Linked DNA regions of Homo sapiens. The protein of the gene in region 1 binds, or shares a complex with, the protein of each later gene. Each region holds a gene or a part of one and is shown in the gene's direction. Other genes may lie near its edges. The genes, in order: SAP30, DNTTIP1 and ZNF541.

Evidence for each region.
Region 2: SAP30 (region 1) and DNTTIP1 share a complex: the UniProt entries of both Homo sapiens proteins name them as parts of the histone deacetylase complex.
Region 3: SAP30 (region 1) and ZNF541 share a complex: the UniProt entries of both Homo sapiens proteins name them as parts of the histone deacetylase complex.

Annotation. Positions count from the first base shown.
Region 1 is NC_000004.12:173,373,834-173,378,032, forward strand, and holds the end of SAP30 (histone deacetylase complex subunit SAP30), read left to right. Parts: intron 1-105; coding exon 106-204; intron 205-3,371; coding exon 3,372-3,494; 3' UTR 3,495-3,699; downstream 3,700-4,199. UniProt on the Homo sapiens protein: Involved in the functional recruitment of the Sin3-histone deacetylase complex (HDAC) to a specific subset of N-CoR corepressor complexes. Capable of transcription repression by N-CoR.
Region 2 is NC_000020.11:45,787,784-45,795,010, forward strand, and holds the start of DNTTIP1 (deoxynucleotidyltransferase terminal-interacting protein 1), read left to right. Parts: upstream 1-4,170; 5' UTR 4,171-4,221; coding exon 4,222-4,326; intron 4,327-4,404; exon of another isoform or gene 4,405-4,493; intron 4,494-4,893; coding exon 4,894-4,964; intron 4,965-6,137; coding exon 6,138-6,234; intron 6,235-7,227. Other genes in the region: WFDC3 (WAP four-disulfide core domain protein 3), read right to left, coding at 53-199, 1,148-1,276, 2,111-2,199, 3,924-3,934. UniProt on the Homo sapiens protein: Increases DNTT terminal deoxynucleotidyltransferase activity (in vitro). Also acts as a transcriptional regulator, binding to the consensus sequence 5'-GNTGCATG-3' following an AT-tract.
Region 3 is NC_000019.10:47,535,049-47,542,168, reverse strand, and holds part of ZNF541 (zinc finger protein 541), read left to right. Parts: intron 1-1,217; coding exon 1,218-1,276; intron 1,277-1,833; coding exon 1,834-1,993; intron 1,994-2,290; coding exon 2,291-2,464; intron 2,465-3,729; coding exon 3,730-4,027; intron 4,028-7,120. UniProt on the Homo sapiens protein: Transcription regulator which is essential for male fertility and for the completion of meiotic prophase in spermatocytes.

The DNA of each region.
Region 1 (4,199 bases):
AGTAAATTTTATTGTGCTGAAGTTAAAATGTTTGTTATTATACATATCAATGATAAATTTTCAACAAATTGTATGAACTCATTTATACATGTTAATTTTTTCTAGGTTGATTTATACCAATTACAAGTAAATACACTTAGGAGATACAAAAGACACTTCAAGCTACCAACCAGACCAGGACTTAATAAAGCACAACTTGTTGAGGTATATATGAGTTTTAAACTATTTGAACTATCTGCACAACCGAGAGGTTATTAAGTGCTAATGGAAGTTTTAATGTAGTGTATGTAACAGTACATTTTAATTAGAAAGAACAAAGTTAAAAAATCTGTTGTGGAAGAATCTAGTTGTGTAGAAATGTTTGTCTGCCACTTAGGAAATTCCTTTTTGTAATGACTGCTTAGTAGATTGTGTACAGCACCTTCTGATACTGGCTTTCAAAATGTGTTGATTGTTTTTTGAGACAGAATCTCACTCTGTCACCCAGGCTGGAGTGCAGTGGCATGATCTTGGCTCATTGAAACCTCTACCTACCAGGTTCAAGCAATTCTCCAGCCTCAGCCTCCCAAGTACCTGGGACTTCAGGTGTGCACCACCACACCAGGCTAATTTTTGTATAATATTTTTAGTAGAGATAGGGTTTCACCATGTTGGCCAGACTTGTTTCAAACTCCTGACTTCAAGTGATCTGCCCACCTCAGCCTACCAGAGTGCTGGGATTACCAGTGTGAGCCACCGTGCCTGGCCCTCAAAATGTTGAATGAGAGTTTTTTTAATCCTCACTTTAGAAATCTATTAATTTTAAAACTCCGTTTAACCAGTAAACATTTGAGCACCTAATTGAGGCATAATAAAATTAATTAACAAGCTTTAATGTCCTTATTAGAATTTATATTTTAAAGTGGTGGAATAGGCCTACAAATCAGACCCTAAACAGTATTTTTATAATTTGCTGACTTAACTATTTCAAAATTTGTCCTTGTTGATGTTTGTTTTATTAGAGACATCCATGTTTTTTTCACATCTAGAAGAGGCAAAAGCTTTTCTTTTACCCAAGCTTTTACTTGTAGTTTGCTTTGATAGAGGACTTCTAGTCAGTCACTGAGTTGTGAAAAGTTAACGGAGCATGCATATGTTTTCAGGATATAATAGAACCAAGAAATCTGTGCATCTTATTAAGATGTTTATAGATTTATATATATATATTTTAATCATATTTAAAATAAAAATTTTTACTTGCAGCTACTGAGGAGGATTGATTAAGCCTAGGAGTTTGAGTCACCATGGGCAACATAGCAACACTCCATCTCTAAAAAAAGAAAATTTGGCCTACTAGACAAAATAGAAGTGTAGAAATATAAATCAGTTTTCTCATATTCTTTGCATGGATTTAGTAGTTACCCAACATTTTCTAAAATGTGCCTATTGAATAAAATGAAATATGAATAGAAGTTACATTTATTTGGCAGAATGCTTTTTAACATTGTTAAAATCTAATATATTAACTATTTAGCTAAAATTTTTTATCCTTGGTTGGGCAACACAGATCTAATTAATTTTTCTTTAATTTTGATTTAAAAGATCAAGTTCTTTTGGGGTTGTACAATACATTAATGTAACATAAATATAGTTATTGCCCACCATGATGAAATATTTCAATAGGTACTAATGGAGTGAAGGCACCCCTGTTTTGGGACAAATGAGAACCAAAGAACTGATTATTTTAAATGTTATATTTAGGTATAAATTAAACCTGTAATTTTTGATAAACTGACCTTCTAAGAACAGTTATATTATTTCCAGAGCTATTTTCTTTTTTATACATAAGAGATAGCCATGAGTGTTATATTTTACTTAATCAGAAATGCAGATATTAGCAAGTTAAGGAATGTGCAGATGTAGTACATATATTTTAAGAGAGGGGTCCCCAACCCCAGGGCCATGGACTGGTACTGGTTGGTGGCCTGTTAGGAACGGGTCCGCAGAGCAGGAGGTGAGCACCAGCTAGCAAGCATTACTGCCTGAGCTCCGCCTCCTGTCAGATCAGCCACAGAATTAGATTCTCAGAGGAGTCCAAACCCTCTTGTGAAGTGCACATGTGAGGGATCTAGATTGTATGCTTGTTATAAGAATCTAATGCCTGATGATCTGAGGTGGAACAATTTCATACCAAAACCAACTCCGCCACCCTCAATCTGTGCAAAAATTGCCTTCCGTGAAATCTATCTCTGGTGCCAAAAAGGTTGGGGACCACTGTTTTAAGGGAATCCAGGGTTGTATGACTAAGTCTTAAGTCTCTTAATTATTGTGTGGATGAACTTTTTTCTTAAGAAATTTTATTTTCTGGAATCTAAATATGCATGTCAGCACCCCAGGTAAGTCTATTATTCTTCTATTAGTAATTGTAGTATGCATGTTATGTTAGCACAATGAAAAAGCAAGGAAGCAGGTAAACATCCTTCATTGAACATCCCTCTTTCTCCTCTCATTTCCATTCATAATTTTTATTCAGAAAAATTTTCAAGGAACCTTAACCAAAGAATGCTACCAAGGTGTGAATGAATGAATATAATTTGCAGCAAACAATTTATATGTTATTGTTGGTTTCTCTACTAGCAAAAGTTTTCAACTTCATACTTCTTTTTCTATCAGTAGAGTCTAAACCATTGCAGGTTTAATGATGCATGTGATCTCTTACGTCTGTTTTATCTCATTTAAAGTTTAAAAGTAAAATCATTTATTCCCTATTCTAGATTCTAATTATAAAATTTATTATTTTTATTTTATTTATTTATCTTTTTTTGAGACAGAGTCTTGCTCTGTTGCCCAGGCTGAAGTCCAGTGGCATGATCTCAGCTCACTGCAACCTCCACCTTCTGGGTTCAAGCAATCCTCCTGTCTAAGCCTTCTGAGTAGCTAGGATTACAGGTGTACACCACCAGGCCTATCTAATTTTTGTATTTTTTTTGGTAGAGATGGGGTTTCGTCATGTTGCTCAGGCTGGTCTCAAACTCCTGGGCTCAAGTGATCCACCCACCTCTGCCTCCCAAAGTGCTGGGATTACAGGCATGAGCCACCACGCCTGGCCCAATTATAAAATTTAAAATAAATAAAAGGAAAATATATTTTCTAATCAATGTATATTAAATTGAGTGGGTCAAAGGGTCCTTTGAAATCACACTATCTCTTGTTCGTAACATTTTATTCTTGAATGCTTTCTGTCTTGTTGATATTTTGTTAAATATAATTTTTAAAGGAAATAGCCCTTATCACATAGCACTTTTTCTTTTGATGAAACCGTATTTTTTACGTAGTTTATGAAACCTGTTATATCTAAAATTTAATTTCCTTAATTTTTCTTTTCTTTGTAGATAGTTGGTTGCCACTTTAGGTCTATTCCAGTGAATGAAAAAGACACCTTAACATATTTCATCTACTCAGTGAAGAATGACAAGAACAAATCAGATCTCAAGGTTGATAGTGGTGTTCACTAGGAGACGTGGAATTGAGACTAATAACTTGGATGTTAACACTGTTTACTGTTTTTTCACATGTAGAAATGTTCTTTGTGTATTTTTTCTACAGAGGATTTTCTCTGATTTTATTTTCTTTGTTTCTGACTCTAATAATTAGTTGGAAACTCATATAAAATGAGCTTTCCTAAATTAAATCTATTTTAAATAAAGGTTATTACTATTATAGTTGCTTCAGTGTATTTATTTTGTGAAACTTGATTTTTCTTTTAAACTGACTAAGAGATCAGTATTGAGATTTTAATGTAAAGTCCTTCATTTTGTAATCCTTTTTTTTTTTTTTTTTTAAACTTCCAAGAAATTAACAGGGTAAGGAGAAGTAACAAATGTAGCACATTTGCATTCTCTGGGACAATCTGACTTGGAAGTGAAGATAATCTAAATAGCATTATTTTTTAAAGTGCTTTATAGGGCTAGCAAATTTGAAAAATAAACTTCTCTTGGAATGCAACTTCTTTTTTATTTCCTTTTTTTTGTTATTATTACTTGATGAAGTACTAGGAAGAACAAATGGTTTAATTTATATACCCACCTCCTTCCAAAGAAGACTTAATGTGCCAGCAAAGATAAACACAATGCTGAAAGTTGAAATAAGAGTATAAAATTAAATAGCTGTTTTTCAAAATTTTGTCTTCGAGAAAAGATATTTATGTGGCATGAATATAG
Region 2 (7,227 bases), on another chromosome or scaffold:
AATAAACAAGCAGACCAAACAGACCATGAGGTGTGGGGACAGCGTTTCTTACCCAGCTTCTGTTTAGAGATTGGGACTACACAGCTCTTGTTGCAGCCAAGCGTGCAGCATTTCTTTACACCTGGACATGTCTCATCAGTGATGCACCTTTTCAAACAGGATTGTTTCCGAATAACCCTAGGGCAATCTCTTTTCCTCCCTGTAGCAAAAAGGGAGACAGCAAAGAAAAGAGAAAATAGGCCGAGCGCCATGGCTCACACCTGTAATCCCAGCACTTTGGGAGGCCAAGGCGGGTGGATCACCTGAGGTAGGGAGTTCGAGAACAGCCTGGCCAACATGGAGAAACCCCATCTCTACTAAAAATACAAAATTAGTCGGGGGTGGTGGCACATGCCTGTAAATCCCAGCTACTTGGGAGGCTGAGGCAGGAGAATCACTTGAACCCGGGAGGCAGAGGTTGCGGTGAGCCGAGATCACGCCACTGCATTCTAGTCTGAGCAACAAGAGCGAAACTCCGTCTCAAAAAAAAAAGAGAGAGAGAGAGAGAAAATAGTGCCTGGCAACACCCACGGGCACAGCAGAAGGGAAAAACAGAAAAAGGAAGTCCTGAGATTTATTTAAGCCTCTCAACCCTGGTGCTAAGACAAAGAGACAATAATAACAACAATAGTAATAGCAAATATTTACTGTAACATTTACTGACGTTTACCTTGTGCCATGAACATCTTATTTGATCCTCACAATTATCCCCATTTTATAGATGAGGAAACTGAGGCTAAAAGCTTAAGATTTATAAAGAGCTAAGGCTTAAGGCTTAAAAAGGTCTGCTTGGCTCTAGGGTCTACTCTCTTAATCATTATCTTACACAGCCTTCCCTTTACAACTCTTCCCTCCAGCCTTCACAGGAACTTTGAGTCCAAAGTAAAAGACATAGATAATCAATGGTGCGCTCTTTCCTGATGGAAGGCAAACAACTGGGGGCACTGAATAATTAAAGGAGGAGGGACCCTAAAAGAGTAAAGAAGAAGTACTCTAGGCAAGGGAGACTTCCAGAGGCAACCTAGAAGGTGGGAAGCTCTCTACTTCCATCTATCCCAGAGGCAATGTCAGAGAGTATGCCCAGATTTTGCCCCTCATGCCAACATACCCTTAGGAATGTCTCGGCAGATCCGACCACAGCCTGTGGTGCAGCACTTCTGTTCAGCCGGACACAATTCATCACCCTGGCACAGCTCTTTGCATGGGTTCTTATGGGGAGGGCATTCTCCCTCTTTTGCTGCAAAAGATACTATTTGAGTTTGGGGTAACTAGCCAGGCCTCAGAAATGGGGAATGGACCTTCAGCCCCTCCAGGCATCTCTATCCAAAATATTTCTGCACCACTGCACTCTAGCCTGGGTGACAGAATGAGACCCTGTCTCTTAAAAAAAAAAAAAAATTCTGGCTGGGCACGATAGCTCATGCCTGTAATCCCAGCACTTTGGGAGGCCGAGGCGGGCGGATCATGAGGTCAGGAGATCGAGATCATCCTGGCTAACACAGTGAAACCCCATCTCTACTAAAAATACAAAAAATTAGCTGGGCGTGGCGGCGGGCACCTGTAGTCCCAGCTACTCGGGAGGCTGAGGCAGGAGAATGGCGTGAACCTGGGAGGTGGAGTTTGCAGTGAGCTGAGATCACGCCACTGCACTCCAGCCTGGGTGACAGAGTGAGACTCCATCTCAAAAAAAAAAAAAAAATTCTGCAACCACCTTCCCCTCCTCATACACAAATACTAACATATATCCACCACTGCTAAAGGAGCAGCCATCCTGCAGATAACGAGAGAGAAAGGGTGGGATGATCCTGTTCTCATTTAATGAGTTCTAGGGAAAAGCTAGAACCTCTAGTAAGCCCAACTGGAAGTCCTATCTCCTTGTCCAGAGAGGGTAAAGAAAGCCAGGAAGAATGACCCAGGCCATCCTGAGAATCTATTCATCCAGTCCTGTCCTATAGAGATGATCATCTCCACTTACAAGCAACCTTGCTCTGGGAGAAGGCAGGGGATGAGTTCTCCTCTCCTCTAGTCACTTTCTGTTACTGTTGGCCAGGGATCCCAAATGATAGCTCACCATGTTCTCCTGCAGTTATCCAGGATTCCAGAGACCCAAGAGCAAGAAGTGCCTTCAGAAGAAAGAGGCAGCTTAACATCATGATGATGCTGAGAGTTGGGACAAGAGCTCAGTTCAGGCTAGAGGTGTACACCTTGCCCAGAGTATCAGCTGAGGTATGAGCAGGACTAGGGATGGCCCCAAACCCAGTCCCAAAACCTTCCCTTTCACAATACTCCCCAAGAATATCTTCTCCTGACAAGAAGAAGAGGGATTGGCTGCTGGAGTGTGGGAAAATTCCTGGCACTACCAAAGGGGACCTGTGATGGGAGGATCAAATTCTGTAAGCAATATACACAATATTCCTGGATGATGAGAAACCTAGTGGGTGGCTGGAAAAATGGAGGGGTGGCCATTGGAAAAAGAATCAAAGAGAGCCCTAAAGGGCATTGGAAGGACATGGCTTTAGCCCAAATAACAGAGGGAGGGATTCACGACACTACTTAATGGCCAAAGCTAATAACATAACCAAGCATAATAAAATTGTGGCTCCTGTTCATCCTAGCAACCAAGAAAATACAGAATGGAACAGACCACTCAGAAACTATCAAATAGGCCAAGGCGGGCAGATCACCTGAGGTCAGGAGTTTGAGACCAGCCTGGCCAACATGGCGAAACCCTGTCTCTACTAAAAATACAAAAATCAGCTGGGCATGCTGGTGCATGCCTGTAATCCCAGCTACGTGGGAGGCTGAGGCAGGAGAATAGCTTGAACCCAGGAGGCAGAGGTTGCAGTGAGTGGAGATCATGCCACTGCACTCCAGCTTGGGTAACAGAGTGAGACTCTGTCTCAAAAAAAAAAAAAAGAGAGAAAAGAAACTATCAAAAACCTACAGAAAAGCAGTAGTTGAGTTTGTTAAGAACTAATGAAAAGCACCAAACACCTACATCTTTGTCCCTCTAACCCACACAGGCCATTCTTGGACTGTATGAAGTCTAGCTGGCAGAACCCAAGAGAAGTTGCTATGTATGACTCAAATAGTCTGCCCACATATACCTCCTTTATTTCTTTTTTCTCCATTTCTTTTTTTCTTTATCTGTCCTGGTCATGCCTTTGGTTAGCTGTGATACCTAATGGTGTCCACTGGCACTGCTTAGTCCTATGGGCAGGTACAAGGTAAAACCTCCTTAATAGGATCAAAAAGTTTGGAGCCAGGAAGTCGCCCTTATGGTTAGAAGGCTGATGTTGGCTCATGGAGATAATTAACATTTGATGATGACCTCATATGTGCCTAATATGCTTTTTTTTTTTTTTTTTTTTTTTTTTTTGAGACAGAGTCTCCCTCTGTCCCCCAGGCTGGAATGCAGTGGCGCGATCTCGGCATAATTAACATTTGATGATGACCTAACATGTGCCTAATGTGCTTTTTTTTTTTTTTTTTTTGAGACAGTCTCCCTCTGTCGCCCAGGCTGGAGTGCAGTGGCGTGATCTCGGCTCACTGCAACCTCCGCCTCCTGGGTTCAAGAGACTCTCCTGCCTCAGCCTCCCGAGTAGCTGGGATTACAGGTGCCCACCACCACGCCCGGCTAATTTTTATATTTTTAGTAGAGACGGGGTTTCGCCATGTTGGCCAGGCTGGTCTCGAACTCCTGATGGCAAGTGATCCTCCCGCCTCGGCCTCCCAAAGTGCTGGGATTACAGGCGTGAGCCACCGCCCCTGGCCGAGCATATTAAAATCTAGTTTTCAAAAACTGAACTGCAGGCGCCGCTGTACCAAACGCTTCCCTCTGCTCCCCAACCCCAGCCTACAGAAAACTGGTCCCTTCCTCCTACCCCGCAGTCATCCCCAGGCCTTGGCCCAGCGGGAAACATCCCTTGACTGAACCGCCACTGAACACCCACACTGCACAATCGAGGCGCAGCCCTCCCGAGAGGAAGCCCCAACGACCTCCACCTACAAGGCCTCTAAGTGTAACTGTCCTGGGCGAGGCGCGGCGGTTCGGTTCCCATGGTAACCCCGCAGCTCCAGCGTCGCGCTTCCGGGCGGACGAGCAGCGCGCTCCAGTGACGTCACGGCGCCACTTTCCGGCCGGTGACAGAGTCCAGCGGAGTTGTGGGGGCCGGGGGCGCCATGGGAGCCACTGGCGACGCCGAGCAGCCGCGGGGACCTAGCGGGGCCGAGAGGGGCGGCTTGGAGCTGGGGGATGCGGGCGCAGCGGGGCAGCTGGTTCTTACGGTGAGGGCGCCCCCGGTGAGGTCTGGGCTCAGGCCGGGCACGGCCTCGGGGCTCCTGGGACCCTGGCCCGCGGGCGAGAGAACGCGGAGGCTGGAGCTGCAGAGGGGGTTGGCGTTTTCGCAGCCCGACGACCTGGATTTAAATTCTGGTGCCGCCCTCCTAGCTAGGTGACGTGGGCCATCTCTGTCAACCCCCTGAGTCCCAGGATCCTCTTCTATAAAATGGAAATGATTAGTACCTGTCTCATAAAACTTGTTGTGGGATGGGAAGATAAAGGCGGGTACAACGCCCCGGACATCACCTGACACAGAGTTGACCCTCGGTAAATACTGCTTCCCTTCCTCCTGCCGTGCCAGAAGGCAGGGTCGGGACTTTTAAGGCAGGAAACTTCCTCAGTTCCTCTTTTGTGGAGGAGGCCTTACAACTATCGTCCCACCCCAAGGCGGGAGAGATGGTGACGGATCTGAGAAGCAGGGATGTCCAGGTTTAACTTCATACCCACCCTCCACCTCCACCCCACCCCAGTGTCACAGGCCGCAGTGACATTTGTTCCGTTGGTCCCCACAGAACCCTTGGAACATAATGATAAAGCACCGGCAGGTGCAGCGGAGGGGCCGCCGCTCACAGATGACAACAAGGTAAGGCTGGCCCTGCATGGGGCTTATATCCCAGCCACTGGCTTGCATGGCAGATTTGGGATCCCCAGTGCACAAGGCTATGGAGATCTACAGCCGGTAGAAAGAGCACAGGACTGAGGAAGAGGAGACTCCGATTCTGTAACTCTGTGTGATCTTGAACTAGTCAAGTCACTTCCTTCTCTGAACTCACGTACAAAATGGGGAAGGGCACAGGAGATGGGTTGTGGAATAAACAATACCTAAGATCCCTCACATTCACTGGCTCTGTGGTTGAGGGCTCTAAAGAGGTCAGTTAGCATGGAGTTTAAGAGAACAGGCTCTGGAGTCAGACAACTGTGTTCTCATCAACAGACTCTGATGAGCCCGTTTTCTCAACTATAAAGAGGGATTAATAGTATGCATGTCAGGGAAGGGAGAGAGCACAAGGTGGGCCTTTGGGATGCTGATAGTGGTGAAATGGATGTTCACTATAATTACTCATTAAAGTGTATAGACTTTTCTGTATAAGTATTATATTTCATAAAAACACTTTGGGCCGGGCGCGGTGGCTCACGCCTGTAATCCCAGCACTTTGGGAGGCTGAGGTGGGTGGATCACCTGAGGTCGGGACTTCCAGAACAGCCTGACCAACATGGAGAAACCCCGTCTCTACTAAAAATAACAAAAAATTGGCCGGGCGCGGTGGCTCACGCCTGTAATCCCAGCACTTTGGGAGTCTGAGGCGGGCAGATCACCTGAGGTTGGGAGTTCGAGACCAGCCTGACCAAAATGGAGAAACCCGGTCTCTACTAAAAATACAAAAATTAGCCGGGCGTGGTGGTGCACACCTGTAATCCCAGCTACTAAGGAGGCTGAGGCAGGAGAATTGCTTGAACCCAGGAGGCAGAGGTTGCAGTGAGCCAAAACCACGCCACTGCACTCCAGCCTGGGCAACAGAGTGAGACTCCGTCTCAAAAAAAAAAACTTTGAAAATAATATGCACTTCATAGAGTTATTATGAGAAAGAAATAAAGTCATGCCTCTGTGATTTGCACAAAATCTGAGCATGTAGCTAGTTTTCAATAAAAGCTGTCTAGTATTGTTAAGGAATTCTATGTCCATAATTAACTGGGGAGGCTGGGAAAGAATATGTTTGGGACATGCCCCCTCACCCTGTCTCCCTCCTGAATGCAGTTTCACAGATCCTGCCATCTCCATGGATCTCCTCCGAGCTGTCCTGCAGCCCAGCATCAACGAGGAGATCCAGACTGTCTTCAACAAGTACATGAAGGTGAGAGGGACACAGGATAAAAAATAACAGGAGAAAGACTCATGAGGAGCCCAGTCCTTGCCTGCATCACCAGTCTGTCTCTTTCCTACATACAGATATCTAAAGTTTTCCTTTCTTGTTGTTTTTGTTTTGTTTTGTTTTGTGTTTTTGAGACAGATTCTCACTCTGTCACCCAGGCTGGAGTGCAGTGGCACAATATCGATTCACCGCAACCTCCACTTCCCAGGTTCCAGCGATTCTCATGCCTCAGCCTCCCTAGTGGCTGGGATTACAGGTGCCCACCACCTTGCAGGGCTAATTTTTGTATTTTTAGTAGAGACGGGGTTTCACTGTTGGCCAGGCTGGTCTCGAACTCCTGACCTCAAATGATTTGCCTGCCTTGGCCTCCCAAAGTGCTGGGATTATAGGTGTGAGCCAGGGCACCTGGTCAGTTTTCAAATTTTTAATCCCCCAAGAATTTTATTCCCTCCTTGAGGGTAATTCAGATACCTTTTTTTTTTAAAATCTGCCCTTGTCACGCACGTGGTTTTTTTTGCTGACCTCTTATAAGGATGAAGTGACTTAAATGTACTGTGCTGAGCACTGTGCTCCAGACATAACAAGTGTCCAATAAGTATTCTTATTAGTTGTTTAATAATATAACCATTATTGGGGCCATGCACAGTGGCTCACACCTGCAACCCCAGCACTTTGGGAGGCCGAGGCAGGATCACTTGAGGCCAGGAGTTTGAGAACAGCCTGGGCAACACAGTGGGACCTCATCTCTACTAAAAAAAAAAAAAAATTTTTTTTTTTTTTTTTGAGACAGAGTCTCACTCTGTCGCCAGGCTGGAGTGCAGTGGCACGGTCTTGGCTCACTGCAACCTCCGCCTCCTGGGTTCAAGCAGTTCTCTGCCCCAGCCTCCCAAGTAGCTGGGATTACAGGCATCCGCCACCACGCCCAGCTAATTTTTTGTATTTTTAGTAGAGACGGGGTTTCACCGTGTTAGCCAG
Region 3 (7,120 bases), on another chromosome or scaffold:
CATTGCATATGAGTGGAATCATGCACTCTGTGGCATTCGTATCTGGCTTCCTTCACTCAGCATGACGTTTTCCAGGCTCATCCGTGGGGTGGCAAACGGCAGAGCTGCATTCCTTTCCATGACTGAGTGATCCTCTGTTGGATGGATAAGGCCGCGTTTTATTTGTCTGTTCATCAGTGGATGGACATTTGGGTTGTTTCCACTTTTTGGCTATTTTGAATATGGTGCTGCTGTGAATATTCACCCATGTACAAATTTTTATGGGGATTTATGTTCTAGGAGTAGAATCGCCAGGTCGTACAGCAGTTCTGTTTTAGGTCTGAGGAACTACTAGGCTGTTTTGCTTGTTTCCTCTTCCCACCCACAGTGTATGAGGGCTCCACATTCTCCATGTCCTCACTAACACTTGTTATTGTCCGTGGTTTGTTTAAATTATAACTACCCTGGCGGGTGTGAAGCAGTATCTCATTGTGGTTTTGATTTGTATTTCCCCGTGGCTGCTGACGTTGAACACCTTTCTGTGTTCTTATTGGCCATCTGTGTATCTTTCTAGAAGAAATGTCTGTTCAGGTCCTTTGCTTATTTTTTAAAATCAGATTACTATTTTTTGAGTTCTCTATATATTCTGGATGCAAGACCCTTATCTGACACATGACTTGCAAATATTCTTTCATTTTGTGGTCTGTCTTTTCACTTTATTTATGATACCATTTGCAGGACAAAAGTTTTTATTTTTTATTTTTTATTTTTTTTTGAGACAGGGTCTCACTGTCACTCAGGCTGGAGTGAAGTTGTACGATCATGGCTCACTGCAACCTTGAACTCCTGGCTCAAGTGATTCTCCCACCTCAGCCTCCTGAGTCGCTGGGACCTCAGGCCCATGCCAGTATGCCAGGCCAATTTTTGTATTTTTTGTAGAGATGGGGTTTTGCCATGTTGCCCAGGCTGGTCTCAAACTCCTGGGCTGAAGCAATCCTCCCACCTCGGCCTCCCAAAGTCCTGGGATCACAGGCATGAGCCACCACGCCTGGCTAAAAGTTTTACATTTTGATGAAGTCTAATTTGTCTGTTTTGCTTTGGTGTCTTATCTAAGAAACCACTGTCTAATCCAAGGTCATGAAGATTTACTCTGATGTTTTCTTCTAAAAGTCTGTAATTTGAGCTCTTCTTGCCTCTTCATTTTGGATGTGTTGGTTCAGATGCATTTTCATCTTCAGGGTGGAAACATCTACAGGCTCCCCCATCCGGTGAAGGAAGAGAATGTGGCAGGCAGAGGGTAAGTTAAGAAGCCCCCGATCCTGCATGCACCCTGGCAGGAGTCCTCTGGCCTTCCTGTGCCGGCCCTGGACAAGTGAGTGGGGAGGATGCTTTCAGTCCTAATGGGATTAGGGTACAGCCTCCATTTTATAGGGTTTATCAAGAGTAGTCAGGCTGGACGCGGTGGCTCACGCCTGTAATCCCAGCACTTCAGGAGGCTGAGGCAGGGGGATCATTTGAGGTCAGGAATTCGAGACCAGCCTGGCCAACATGGTGAAACTCTGTCTCTACTAGAAATATAAAAATTAGCCACGTATATTGGCACACACCTGTAATCTTAGCTACTTGGGAGGCTGAGGCACGAAAATCACTTGAACCCAGGAGGTGGAGGTTACAGTGAGCCGAGATGGTGCCACCGCACTCCAGTCTGGGCAACAGAGTGAGACTCCATCTCCAAAAAAAAAAAAAAGTCAGTGGATTGGAGTTATAGACAAAAAAGAAAAAAAAACAACAAAAAATCAGTGATCAAGGACAGAGTCCTAATCTCCCACTCTTCTTTCCTGCCATGTCCCACAGTAACCAGCAAAACGGCAGTCCCACAGACTGGACGAAGCCCAGGAGCACTTTTGTCTGCAAGAACTGCAGCCAGATGTTTTATACGGAGAAAGGGCTGAGCAGCCACATGTGTTTTCACAGCGACCAGTGGCCGTCACCTCGAGGGAAGCAGGAACCGCAGGTGAAGGGGGACGACCAGTGGCTTGGTGGTTACTGGGTTTCTGGCAGGCCTGTGGGGAGTAAACGAGATTGGTGTCACTTATCTCAGGATGGGGACGTCACTCTGGGTCGGGGGCTGGAGTCAGGCTGTGTGGCTCTCCAGGGGCAGGCCATTGCCATGGGCTGCAGCAGCTCTCCAGCTTGGTCCATGCCACAGACTCACTGCTGTTTTCTATGACAGCTTTTTTTGCTGAAGCAGCTCTTCCTTTCCCCACCTACCTTATCTCTTAAAGAGCCATCTCTTCTCTTCTGTGTTTAGGTGTTTGGCACAGAGTTTTGCAAGCCGCTAAGACAGGTGCTGAGGCCAGAAGGGGACAGGCATAGTCCCCCAGGAACCAAGAAGCCCTTGGACCCCACAGCTGCAGCCCCTTTGGTGGTCCCCCAATCGATCCCCGTGGTTCCAGTGACCCGACACATAGGGAGCATGGCCATGGTGGGTGCTTGTCGGCCTGCCTCCTTCCTGCCACTGCCCGCAGCTGCTGGGGGAAGCCGTAGGAAAAACCCAAACCAGATACCACAGAAAATCTTTGACTCCAGGCTGGATGTGGTGGCTCATGCCTGTAATCCCAGCACTTTGGGAGGCTGAGGCGGGTGGATTGCCTGAGCTCAGGTATTCGAGACCAGCCTGGGCAACATGGTGAAACCCTGTGTCTACTAAAAATACAAAAAAATTAGCTGGGCATGGTGGCAGGCACCTGTAAACCCAGCTACTCGGGAGGCTGAGGCCCGAGAATCACTTGAACCCAGGAAGGAGAGGTTGCAGTGAGCTGAGATCACAACACTGCACTCTAGCCTGGGTAACAGAGTGAGACTCTGTCTCAAAAAAAAAAAAAAAAAAAAGAAAATCTTGATCCAGAAGAACCTGGTTTGCATGTTAATTCAGTCATTCAGCATTCACTGAGCCCCTCTGTGCCAGGCCCTGTGCTGGGTGGTGCTGGGGACACAGAGGTGACCACAATAGCCTGGGCCCTGCCTCCCAGGGCTCCTAGTCCAGTGGAGGAGACAGGCCTGTCCCCAGACAGTGACAACCCAGAGTGGGCAGAGCTGGGAGCAGAGGGAGCCCAGAGAGTTCCCAGGGGGCTCCTGACCCAGCCTGAGGAGGTAAGGGAGGGCTTCCTGGAGGAGGAGGTATGGGATCTGAGACCTAGAGGATGAGGAGGAGTAGGGCTGGCAGAGCGGAGAGGAGATTTTGTGGAAGTGAGAGAGAGCATGGTGAGTTACGAGTGATCAGTCTCGTAGGGCTTGTCTCTGCAGCCTGTACTGGAGGACCCCCTACTGAAGAAGCTCCTGCTGGACTCGGGGACACAGTCCGTGGACCTGAAGGTCCCCTGAGTCAGTGGCTGGGTCATTTCGGTGCTTGTCATTTGGGTGGAGCAGCATTTCTTTCTTCACCGTCACACTGTATCTCTGGGGATCTCTCTCTTTTTAAGGGCCAGTCATCTTAATGATTGAGGCTATTCTTACACAGAGTCAGGGGCTCTGCTGGGGCAGTGGGTGCAGGAGAAGGCTGCAGCCGGATCATCGCCAGGCTCAGTACGTCAGGTCTGGCTCAGGTGTGGCCAGCCTCCTTTGCCGGGCGTGCATTTCCTAGTTTCCTGTCTCTGGCCGGTCTCCTTTTCCTGCTCTCTTTCCATCCTGGAGATGGAGTGGTGCAGTAGGTGGCTTCAGGCGACCACCTGTGGTTCTAAACTTCTTCAGGGACAAGAGAAAGACGGGGAGGAGCGAGACAGCAAGGAGAGCAGCCAGCAGAGAAAGCGGAAGAAGCGGCCCCCACCCTCCACGGCTGGGGAGCCTGGCCCTGCAGGATGCCACCAGAGCCGCCTGCGGTCACCCATGTTCCTGGTGGACTGCCTCCTGAAGGGCTTATTCCAGTGCTCCCCCTACACACCACCCCCAATGCTCAGCCCCATCCGGGAGGGCTCTGGGGTGTACTTCAACACCCTCTGTTCCACGTCCACTCAGGCCAGCCCTGACCAGCTCATCAGCTCCATGCTCGGTGAGTGAGGCTGGGGCACTCACTCTGTGATCCCAGGGTGGATTGCCTGCGGACCACAGCCACTCTACCTTGTAGCATTGGGTTCAGTGATTGTCTCCTGCCTGGGTGTACCTAGTCTGAGGGTTCCTTTGCTATTCAGATGTGCCCCAGGACTGATCTAAGTGCCTTCTAGTGCATAGAATTTTACAGCCCGAAAGAAAACGTAGAGGCCATTTAGCCTGACCATGCTTCTGCCTGCCCTTCTGTGTCATTTTCTTTTTCTTTTTTGAGGCAGGGTCTTGCTCTGTCACCCAGGCTGGAGTGCAGTGGCTTGATCACAGCTCACTGCAGCCTCGATCTCCTGGTCTCAAGAGATCCTCCAGCCTCAGACTCCCAAATAGTTGGGACTACAGGTGCGCATCACCACACCTGGCTAATTTTTTATTTTTCTTAGAGATGGGGTCTTGCTATGTTGTCCAGGCTGGTCTCGAGCTCCTGGACTTGTGATTTTGCTGCCTTGACCTCCCAAAGTACTGGCATTAAATGTGTGAGCCACCCTGTCCAGTCTGTGTCATTTCCTTTTTTTTTTTTTTTTTTTTGAGACAGAGTATCACTCTATCACCCAGGCCAGAGTGCAGTGGCGTGATCTTGGCTGACTGAAACCTCCAACTCCCAAGTTCAAGCAGTTCTCCTGCCTCAGCCTCCCAAGTAGCTGGGACTACAGGCGTGCGCCATCATGCCTGGCTAATTTTTGTATTTTTAGTAGAGATGGGATTTCACCATGTTGGCCAGGCTGGTCTCGAGCTCCTGACTTCCAGTGATCCACCCTCCTCAGCCTCCCAAAGTGCTGGGATTACAGGTGTGAGCCACTGTGCCTGGCCTGGCCTATGTAATTTTCCTAACAGATTTATTGAGCTGTACTTCACATACCATGCAAATCACCCATTTAGAGTATGCAGTGATTTTTAGGATATTCACAAGGCCGTGCAACTATCACATAGTCTTAATTTTAGAGCACGCTTAGCATCCCCAGAAGAAGCCAGAGCTCATTAGCAGTGACTCCGCCCATATCCCCACAGTCCCTTCTTCCCCCAGCCTGGGCACCCACTCATCTGCCTTCTCTCTTTGGATTTGCCTATTCAGGACATTTCATGTAAGTAGAATCATACAATATGCAGCCTTTTGTGTCTAGTTTATTTCACTTGGCATGTTTTCAGAGTCCCTTCATATTGTAGTGCATATCAGTGCTCAATTCCTTTTTATGGCCGAACATTTTTCCCTTGTACAGATGGGCCCCATTTTGTTTATTTATCAGTTGATGGACATTTGGGTTGTTTCCACTTTGGGCTATTATGAATAATGCTGCCATAAACATTCATATAGAAATTTTTGGGGTTTTTTTGGGAGACAAGGTCTCACTCTTGTCACCCAGGCTGGAGTGCAGTTGTATGATCACAGCTCACTGCAGCTTCAACCTCCTGGGCTCAACTGATCCTTCTGCTTCGGCCCAGAGTAGCTGGGCCTACAGGCATGCACCCCCATGCCTGGCTAATTTTTTGTAATTGTTTTTATGTAGGGAGGGGGGTCTTGCCATGTTGCCCAGACTGGTCTCAAACTCTGAGGTGGGCCAGGCATGGTGGCTCATGCCTGTAATCCTAGCACTTTGGGAGGCTGGGGCGGGTGGATCACCTAAGGTCAGGAGTTCAAGACCAGGCTGGCCAACATGGCAAAACCTCGTCTCTACTAAAAATATAAAAATTAGACGAGCATGGTGGCGGGTGCCTATAATCCTGGCCACTCAGGAGGCTGAGGCAGGAGAATCGCTTGAACTGAGGGTGCAGTGTTGGGAACAGGCCCCCCAAAATCTGGCCATAAACTGGCCCCAAAACTGGCCATAAACAAAATCTCTGCAGCACTGTGACATGTTCATAATGGCCATGACACCCACGCTGGAAGGTTGTGGATTTACCGGAATGAGGGCAAGGAACACCTGGCCGACCCAGGGCAGAAAACTGCTTAAAGGCGTTCTTAAACCACAAACAATAGCATGAGCGATCTGTGCCTTAAGGACATGCACCTGCTGCAGATAACTAGCCAGACATATCCCTATATTTTGGCCCATCCCTTTGTTTCCTGTAAGGAATACTTTTAATTGATCTATAATCTATAGAAACAATGCTTATCACTGGCTTGCTGTCAATAAATATGTGGGTAAATCTCTGTTCAGGGCTCTTAGCTCTGAAAGCTGTGAGACCCCTGATTTCCCACTCCACTCCTCTATATTTCTGTGTGTGTCTTTAATTCCTCTAGCGCCGCTGGGTTAGGGTCTCCCCGACCGAGCTGGTCTCGGCAGCGGAGGTTGCAGTAAGCCGAGACCATGCCATTTCACTTTAGCCTGGGCGAAAGAGCTAAATTTGGTCTCAAAAAAAAAAAAACAACTCTGGGGTGAAACAGTCCTCCTGCATTGGCCTTCCAAAGTGCTGGGATTAGAGGCCTGAGCCACCACACCCAGCCTTATGTACAGGTTTTTGTGTGGATTTATGTTCTCAGCTCTCTTGGGTAGATAACTAGGAGTGTAGTGCTGGGTCATATGGTAACTCCATATTTAACTGTTTACAAACTGCCGGATTGTTTTCCAAAATGGCTGGGCCACTTTAAATTTCCAGTAGCAGTATATGAACATTTTCATTTCTCCTCCTTCTTGTCAACACTTGTTATTGTCTATCTTTTTAAGTATAACCATCCTAGTAGGTGTAAAGTGGTCCTTTTGCAGGACAAACATTTCTAATTTTCATGAAGCCCAATTTCCTTTCTTTTGTTACTTGTTCTTGTGGTGTTATATGTGAAGATTTGCCTGACCCAAGTCATGCAGAGTCACTCTTGTTTCCCTGTAAGAGTTTTGTAATTTTGGTCCAGGTGCGGTGGCTCACGCCTGTAATGCCAGCACTTTGGGAAGCCGAGGCAGGCGGATCACGAGGTCAGGAGCTCAAGACCAGCCTGGCCAACATGGTGAAATCCCGTCTCTACTAAAAATACAAAAGAATTAGCCGGGTGTGGTGGCAGGCACTGTAATCCCAGCTACTCAGGAGGCTGAGACAGAGAATCGCTTGAACC